3 separate regions of the Homo sapiens genome follow, and all the other regions are linked to region 2. Evidence: fine-mapped expression QTL. A gene starts in region 2. Each other region holds a variant in brackets. All regions are shown on one strand. Distances are from middle to middle.

Region 1 (2,767 bases), 34 kb after region 2:
GAGAAGAGTTTATAAGAGTGTGATATCAGGAGACAGAAATCATTGTAGCCATTTTAGAGACTGCCTAACACATGCTCCAAATGAAAATTACACCTTCAAGATGCCTAGGGTAAAATAGAGGTAAGTTTATGATTTTTCAGTTTTTAAGGAAAAGTGTTTTTTATATTAAGCATAAAGGATTATTCATCCAAAAATCATAGCTGGATGCTTGTTTGATATTTTGAAGCCACTGTGCAAAGTGGACACATATCCCAAAGGAATAGATCTGTGATTCTGCCATCCATCTCTCCCTCTCCTCAAAGCATACTAATTTCAGTTTGATTTTTTTTTTCCATCTGAAGTGAAAGTCTTGCCTTCCAGACAAAACCAGTGAATGACACTGCCTGCATGTCAGAAATTGCAACTGACATTTCAATTTTGCTTAATTTTTTTTCTTTCTTTGATAGTATTATGGTGAAAATTTACATTTGAATAAAAAGCAAATAGTGCATGTCAGAGTAAGCATCAGGGAATGTCAAATTGTTTTTTTCCAATTACAACTCTATTTCAAATAGGGTAATGAAATTAAAGGATAATTACTAGAAGCACAAAGCCAAGGTTACGATCAGAAATGGTTACCCTTTCACTTTAAGTCCTGTCTTGCTAAATAAAATATTCCTGAGGGGGAAGTTACTGTTTGCAAATAAAATACACTCATCCAGGACCACCCAAACACTTGACAATGTTGACCAAAACACCTATTTGTGCGTAAATACAAGTGTTTAAAAGAGATGAAAGGACACTAAAGGTAAGCTGCATTTTCCTTGGCTTTATCACTCTGATTAATAATGTGATAAATTAGCTGTAGGATGCAATATTAATTAACAGTATATTAGTTGCATTTTATTGCCAATAATATAACAAGCTCTGAAATAGTAGTCAGACTAAACTGCTGACACGGGCTTTTCTGCAAACTGAGCTGTAGTTTGATTTCTCATTTGTCCAAGTGAAGCATCAGCAACTGAGTAAAACCAATTACCTCAAAGCCCACCAAGCCCTCGGCAGCAACTTAGTGCATCTAAGCTTTGCCCAAATGTTATTACTTTCAAATTAGAGGCTGGTCTGAAATGGGCCATCGAAGAATTTCTACTGCTGAAAATAATTCAATATGGCAGTCCAGTTGTGGAACACTTTTCAGGGCCAAATAGAAACAAAGCTCCTTCCAATTTTGACACATCTTGAATCCATGGCTGTCCACTTCTGGAAGGCAAGCCTGGAAGTACAGAAGTCAGATATGAAAAGGGAGGCATTTTCCTGCCTTTTATGTTTATTTTTGAGATGAAGTCCTGGGATGGAGGTGGGGGACACTTTAGGAAAAAGGAC[C/A]CAAGGTCAAGGATGAAAACAAATAAAGACACTCACCTAATGGGAGTTATCTCACCTCACTAGGTAAAGAGAAACTACAGCACAAGAGTTCATCAAGTACAGAGATATGTTGTTGAGTGAACACTTGGCCAAAGGTATTAAAACAAGTAGGGCAGATGCATTATAAGTACCTGAAGAAATCTCTGTTTATATTTATTCATTTGTCTCACCCATAGACCTTCACTTGCTATACTCTTTCTTCTTTCTTTCTCTTTCTTTCTTTTCTTTCTTTCTTCTTTTTCTCTCTCTCTCTGTCACACAAACATATACAAAATCACTTTCGATCCTCTTATCTTGCTTAATATCTTTCATGGAACTTATTACTATCCAAAATTAAATTTCAGACAGTTTATCCATTCATTTACTTCTCTGTTCCTGTATTCCCACCAAACTGTACACTCCATGAGGTCAGGAGGTGTGTCTGTGCACTGCAGAATAGTGCTTGGCATGTAACAGGCACAAAATTAGTTGAATCAAAGAATGAACCCATTCACTGAACTTACATTTACAAAATGCCCAATGTCTAAGTGCGAAGGATTCAAAGATGATGATAATCATAACTACCATTCACTGAAGGAGCCCTCAATGAGCTAAAAGCTTTACATACAGTATTTTATTTGAATCCCTCAACAACCCTTTGAATCATGTGTTTCTATTTTCTTTCTTTCTTTTTTGCAAATGAAGACATAGAGGCTCACAGAGACTGACTTATTACCACCAAGCTAGAAAGAGGTAAAACTATAAATTAAACCGGGTTTGTCTGGCCCTGACTCCAGGAATTGTCATATTCAAAGATTAATAAGAGACAAACATCCTCCCTGAGAACCTCAAAGTCTCATGCTTTGGATTTGAAGCATCATTGTCTTAGAGGATCCTCCTAATATTCTGTGGCTGGAGAAAGAATCTGACAATAATTCCTGGAGAACTGGAGTTGGGACATTTGCCATCCTGGGGCCTTCAGGAATGTCCTTGTCCATGGCAGGATCTGGTATGCCATGCTACTTTCCCTTTGGTGAGGTCAGATTCTGCTGTAGAGGTTTGCCAGGGCTACCCATATTCTCATATCCTTGGCTCCAGGTCTGCATATGAGCCCAGCAGCTGTCAGGGATCCTATTTACTTTTAATAAATCTAACAAATGAATGATAAATAAGTGGTGATTCGTCTGCCTCAGAAAATCCAGCAAGGGCAGGACCCAGCCAGGTGCATGGGAAGCTAAACTCTTTTCCAGCCTTCACAACTGAATTTTAAATTGCCAACACCAAGCTCCAAAGTCAGTTCAGACCCACAAAGTTTCTATGTATTTTAGAAGTCACAGAACTACCCCTCTCTCTGGTCTCTTGGAATAAAAGAAAGTTCCTCAGCCTA
Region 2 (2,767 bases):
CTGTGAGCCTTCTCTGTTTCATTACCTTTAGGATAGCTTGCCTAGTTTACTAGGAAGTCACAATTGCATCAAATTAAGTTCCATGCAGGCATTAATCTCCTCCCAGAACGCTCCTGCTTTAGCCCCTATCATTTTATCCTGTTTATATCCATGTGTTTCTGTTATGACACTTTTCACACCACACTGTGATTAACTGTTTATTCCTCTCTCACTAGTCTGTGAGCTCCTTGGAAGCAGAAATAAATTTTGTTTTTGTCTAATCATTGCTTAACAAAGTGCCAACCACAAAGTAAACAGTAAAAGAATTACAGAATGCAACCTCCTGCAGACACAGTTGAAGAAACTATTCATTGTTTTTTCCTTTCTGTCATTCCCTAGTTCTAGGCATCAAATCGCTTGCCTAGTCGGCGAGCAGTATGAAAGTGGTGGGAGGACCATAGACGCACTGCAGAAAACAGCTTACAGTAGATGCAGAGAATTACTAGCACGCTTGGGCCTTGGTGGGGCTTGTCTTATTTACCTGTTCCTCATTTTTCACTGGGAGTTTAAAACAAGTTTTTGTTTCCCTGCTATCCCGACCTTAAGATAATTAAAAGGCCAAGAATCTTTAAGAGACTTTCAGTTCTCCTGGATTCTAGATAATAAAACCCACTTTAAAAATTAATGAGCACCTATACTGTGACAGACAATAAGGATACAATAAAAATACCATTTCTGTTCTGAGAAAATTTACAAGCATCTTCCTGGAGCCTACATTTTACTCGAAGTAATAGCTATTTTTATAGCTTACAATAAAAGATGCATTTTGGAATATATTTCGCTTGAATTAAAGAAATAGAATGTGAGACCTTAAACAAAGGGTCCGTTCTTCAGATCCTTTTAACTCACACTCTCCTTCAGGGGTCGGGGTATTTGGGTGCAAAAGTTTACTATCACGCACAGGTGTAGAGATGTACAAATACGATCCAATTTAGTGGAAACTGTGTCTTGTAAGAGATGGCCCCCAGGGACCTCCCACATCCCTAACCTCTCGGAGGACTGCAAAAGACAGCATCTGAAGCACCTCTTGCCTCGCCTTGAATCATTTGCCACTTCACACCGCCCCGCCCCTTCCGTCCCCGGAGGCGGCCAGCCTCGTGTCCGCTCTAGGCTTCTCCCGGACGTCTCTTTGTGGTGGCGTTGAGCTCCTCTAGCCCGCGCTTGCCGTCCTCTCAGTGGTAGCGCGGGGACTGGCTGGGAAGCGGTCGGTCGAGTGTGGCCTGTGTGGACTCGCATCTTGCCCGAAGCCGGGCGGAGGAGAGCTCAAGCTAAGGTGGAAGGGGAACGGGGGAGGCCCTGGAGAGGAGTGGGAGAGTGGAGACAGGCCCCTGGGTGGCGAGGGAGCCCGGCGGCGTAACGGGGGAACCCGGGGAGAGGTGGAAGAGGAGGCCCGCACACGTGAGGGGGATTTCCAGCTGCTGGCCGGGGCCTCTCACCCCTACCCCCGCGTAGTTCATCTGCGACGCAACGCCTTGTGTCAAAGCCCAGCACAGGTTCTGCCGCCTCTGACCTCTCTGAGGGTCGTCGCCTGTCCTGTAGGCCCAGGACCTTCAAAGCTACGATTTTGACGTGAACTACTTAGGGTTATTGTGGCCTTGAACTCCGTAGACAGCCTTTATCTCTGCTATTTTTGTTTTTAATTTTTCAAATCAGAATCCTTTCAACCCTGGCCGTTTGAGGCCAAAGGCTAATGTTTATTTTTCCATCCCGGTACCATGAACTTAGTAGGTGCCCACTGGACGGATCTGGTGGTTTTAGTCATTTGTAAATAGCCGTGAACTAAGGAAGAAATGTATGTGGCCTCTTACAGGGTTGGGTTGGGAATCATTGCAGGGTTTGGGGGCACTCTGTTAGGCATGATAACAACAGCTCTAGGCTTGAGTTTCTTCATCTGTAAATGAGAATGATAGTACTTTCCTCAGGGTGGCTATGAAGGTTCCTGAAATGATGTTTGCCCTAAGCACTGTACCTGGCATGTCCTGACTACCACACTTGAACCAAATCTTTTCAATGGTGTTATGGACTATATTTTTGTTTTAAATTGCCTTTACCTTTCTTATTGTACCTAGATCTTCCTGAGGATTGAGACTCTCCTCTTTGCCTTTGGGCCAATTGTCATGTTATAGGTAATCAGTATTTGAAGATGACAGGCACAAAAAGTTCACAGTTGCAGGATGCGTGACTTTTGTAGGCGTATGTACCCATAACTAAAGCTCCTGATTTGGGGAGTAGGGGTAGATTAAATTATATTTTTATTAAATAAGAGATAATCTGGGAAGACGCTGTGTAAGTTGTAAGACCCTATGCCAAGAAAAGCCTTTAATTTTTTTCATAAAACATTTCATGAAAACTTTTTTTATGTTTTTCATAAAAGAGACATCAGTTGACCTAAAAACGAAGTAAATTTTTTGTTTTGTTAAATTTCCTCTAAATGTTACTTTTCCCACTAATAAGGAGACTGGTAACAAACTAAAAAACTATGTTAAGGGAAATTAACATATTGGAACGGGTATTTCTGCATCTCCCCTACAAATTTAGGAAGAAAAAGTGAGTTCCCTAATTAATCCTCAATTCCCTCTGCTGTTGTTTTGTTAGTGGCTGTTTTGCTGTTTTGTTAGTGGTGGGGGGGGTGTTCTGCATTAACACCCCGAAACCCCTGTGATAATGTCCTAGACCTTGCAAGCATCATGGCCGCGTGTGAGTTTTCTCAGCTTCCTCAACCTAATCT
Region 3 (2,767 bases), 43 kb before region 2:
CATTTATAGTACACATTACACAAAAATTTTCTTTAACGTATTCACAAGTTATAAGAATCAAGGGTAAGATAAGTAAACTAATAAAGAATAAACAAAAATATGAACAGATAATTTATAGTAAAATAAAAATAATGGCCAATATTTTTGGCCAAAAAATAGGCTGAGGAAAAATTTTATATTCATAATTAAAGAAATATAAATGAAAATAAGATGTTAGTTTCACCCACTAACTAAAAGTTTTAAAAGGTTTTAAAGTTTAACAATGACTAATGCTGACACTGTTGCTAGATATGTAAATTTACACATTTTAGAGGCAATTTGTGATATCTTCCAACATTTAAAGTGTGTTTACCCTTTCCCCTCTCACCTCTCAATTAATTGCAAGGAATTTACCTACATCCACACTTGCAAAAATTCATCCAGATAGATGTACAGGATATTTATTGGAGCTAAAAATGAAAACAACAAACGCTTTTTCAACACTCTAGTTCTTATTAAATAAAATATGACATCTCCAGACTATGGAATACTATGTAGTCCATGATACAAGGGGAAAGATCTATATTAGCTAATAACGGAAGGATGGCCAAGCCATATTACTGAGTTGCAAAATCAAGAGCAGAATAATGTGTAAGTATACTCTTTTTGTGTGAATGAAAAAATAGAAATATTTTATATACAGACAATGAACACATAATTTCTTTTCTGGAAGGAAACATGAGAAACTAATATGGTAGGTCCACATGTTCAAGAGACTATAAGTCATTTAGAACCTTTCCATACTGTTTGACTGTGCTTTCTATAAGCATGTCATACTTTATTTTCTATGTCATAGGCATTACGGGTCATTTCCTAAAATACACTTTTTCATATCATTAAAAATAAACAATGTTATTTAACATTTAAAAGTGACAAGTCAATTATTTGGAGCTCCACGTTATCACACGTTCTAATTTCTATTTCCAGCTGATTATGGGGAGGAACGAACACAGGTGGGATTTTCCGTTAGTAAAGAAATGGTAATCTCAAGTTCTCTCTGTCTCTCTCTCTCT[G/C]TGTGTGTGTGTGTGTGTGTGTGTGTGTGTGTGTGTGTGTGTGTGTGTGTTGGTATCTCTCTCTCTCTCTCTCTGTCTCTCTTTCCCCTCAAGAAAATAACTCAGAATTTTACTTCAAGAATGAAGAAAAGCTACTAGACTGTCTTTAGCAGGGGACTGATGTGATCAGATTTACTCTCTTAAGGGATTCCCTTAGCTGTTTGGAGAGAATAAACTTATAGAGTATATTAGTCAGGGTTCTCCTGAGAAACAGAATCCACAGGGTGTGTGTGTGCATGTGTGCATATGTGCATAAGGAGACTTCTAAGAAATTGGCTCTGAAAGTTACAGAGGCTGAGATGTCCCAACAACTATAGTCAATATGGTGGAGACCCAAAAGAACTGATGTTATAATTCCAGTCCAAAGCCAGCGGGCTTTAGACCCAAGAAGAACTGACGTTTCAGGTCAAGTCCAAAGGCTGAAGAAAACCAATGTCCCATCTCAAAGCAGTTAGGCAGGTGTGTATCCTCTTACTCATGAGAATATTCCCCTTTTTCTTCTACTCAGACTGTCAACTGATTGGATGAGGCCCACCTACATTAGGGATGGATGGTAGTCTGCTTTACTCAATCTACTGGGTCCAGTGTTAATCTCATCTAAAAACACCCTCACAGATACAGCCAAAATAATGTCTAACAAATATCTGGGCACCCCATGGCCTAGTGAAGTTGACATAAAATTAACTATCACACAAGGCAAGAATGAAAACGAGTAGACCAGTGAGGAGGTTCTTGCCATTTTCCAGGCAAGAGAGGATGATGGCTTTGACTTGGGTTGTAGCCATGGAAGTGGTGGAAAGTATTAGGATTCAGAAAACAACCTTAGAGTAAAATCAACAAAAATTGTTATTATTGTTCTGTTGTTACTGTTATCATTTTGGTAACAATAAATAATAATAACTAATAGTTAACCTTATTTTTAGTAGGGCTCAGGCACTTTTCCAAATGCTTTATATGTATTATTTCATTTGATCTTCTCAAACAAGGAAACTGAGGCACTGAAATTTTTAATAACTTGCCCAAGGCCACACAGTTAATCAATGAAAGTGTATGACCCCCGCTGCACTAAGAGCAGCTTCTTTTGTTTACTTTCCTTTGTATGGGGAGTGGGAGGGTGATGATAAAGTAGAAATCAAGAATTTGGTTTAAGACATGTTAAAATTAAGATGCTATTAGATATCCAAAGACACATAAAAGTCTAGACTTCAGAGAACACACTGGCCCTGGAAACATAAATTTGAAAAATACCTAAGTGGTATTTAAAGCTAAGGGATTGAATTAAGTGACCTAGGAAATAAACATAGAGAAGAAAAGAGGTAGAGGGACTGAGCCTAGGGAACCCCAACAGTTAGAGGTCAGAAAGATGAGGATGATCCCAGAAATGCAACTGAGAGCCAACAATACTTCAAGTAGAAAAAAAAGCCATAAGCATGGAGTATCCTAGAGGCCACATGTTCCAAGAAAGAGACCACTTGTGTCAAATGCTAAGAGGCTGACAGGAGTGACCACTGTATCTGCAACCTAGAGTTCTTGGGTATCCTAGCAAAAAAATTTACATTTTTTAGTTGTGGAATATTGCACATCATATAAAATTTATCATAGCATCACTGAATTTTATAAAGCTTATATTTCTTGCTTATAGACAATCTATAAACAGAAGAAAACTTCATAGTTTG

Evidence for each region. PIP is the estimated chance that this variant, and not a neighbour inherited with it, causes the effect.
Region 1: its variant is the best candidate, but not a certain one, in a credible set for the expression of ARL14EP in substantia nigra (GTEx, PIP 0.73).
Region 3: its variant is the best candidate, but not a certain one, in a credible set for the expression of ARL14EP in monocytes after LPS (Kim-Hellmuth 2017, PIP 0.83).

The regions. Positions count from the first base shown.
Region 1 is chr11:30,355,650-30,358,416 of GRCh38, forward strand. LOC102723403 (a long non-coding RNA gene) reads right to left here. Exons shown (of 4, transcript XR_001748162.1): 4 at 1-1,252. Among named protein-coding and RNA genes, the nearest start is that of ARL14EP, 34 kb to the left of the region's middle. The variant C/A (reference allele first, on the strand shown) is at 1,363.
Region 2 is chr11:30,321,891-30,324,657 of GRCh38, forward strand. ARL14EP (ARF like GTPase 14 effector protein) reads left to right here and starts at 1,214. Exons shown (of 4, transcript NM_152316.3): 1 at 1,214-1,312. It overlaps ARL14EP-DT (ARL14EP divergent transcript), which reads right to left and starts at 1,056. Exons shown (of 2, transcript NR_187437.1): 1 at 1,028-1,056. RefSeq lists enhancers at 876-1,481, 994-1,243 and a silencer at 1,314-1,443.
Region 3 is chr11:30,278,676-30,281,442 of GRCh38, forward strand. The region is part of intron 1 of ARL14EP-DT (ARL14EP divergent transcript); the gene reads right to left. Among named protein-coding and RNA genes, the nearest start is that of ARL14EP-DT, 43 kb to the right of the region's middle. The variant G/C (reference allele first, on the strand shown) is at 1,053.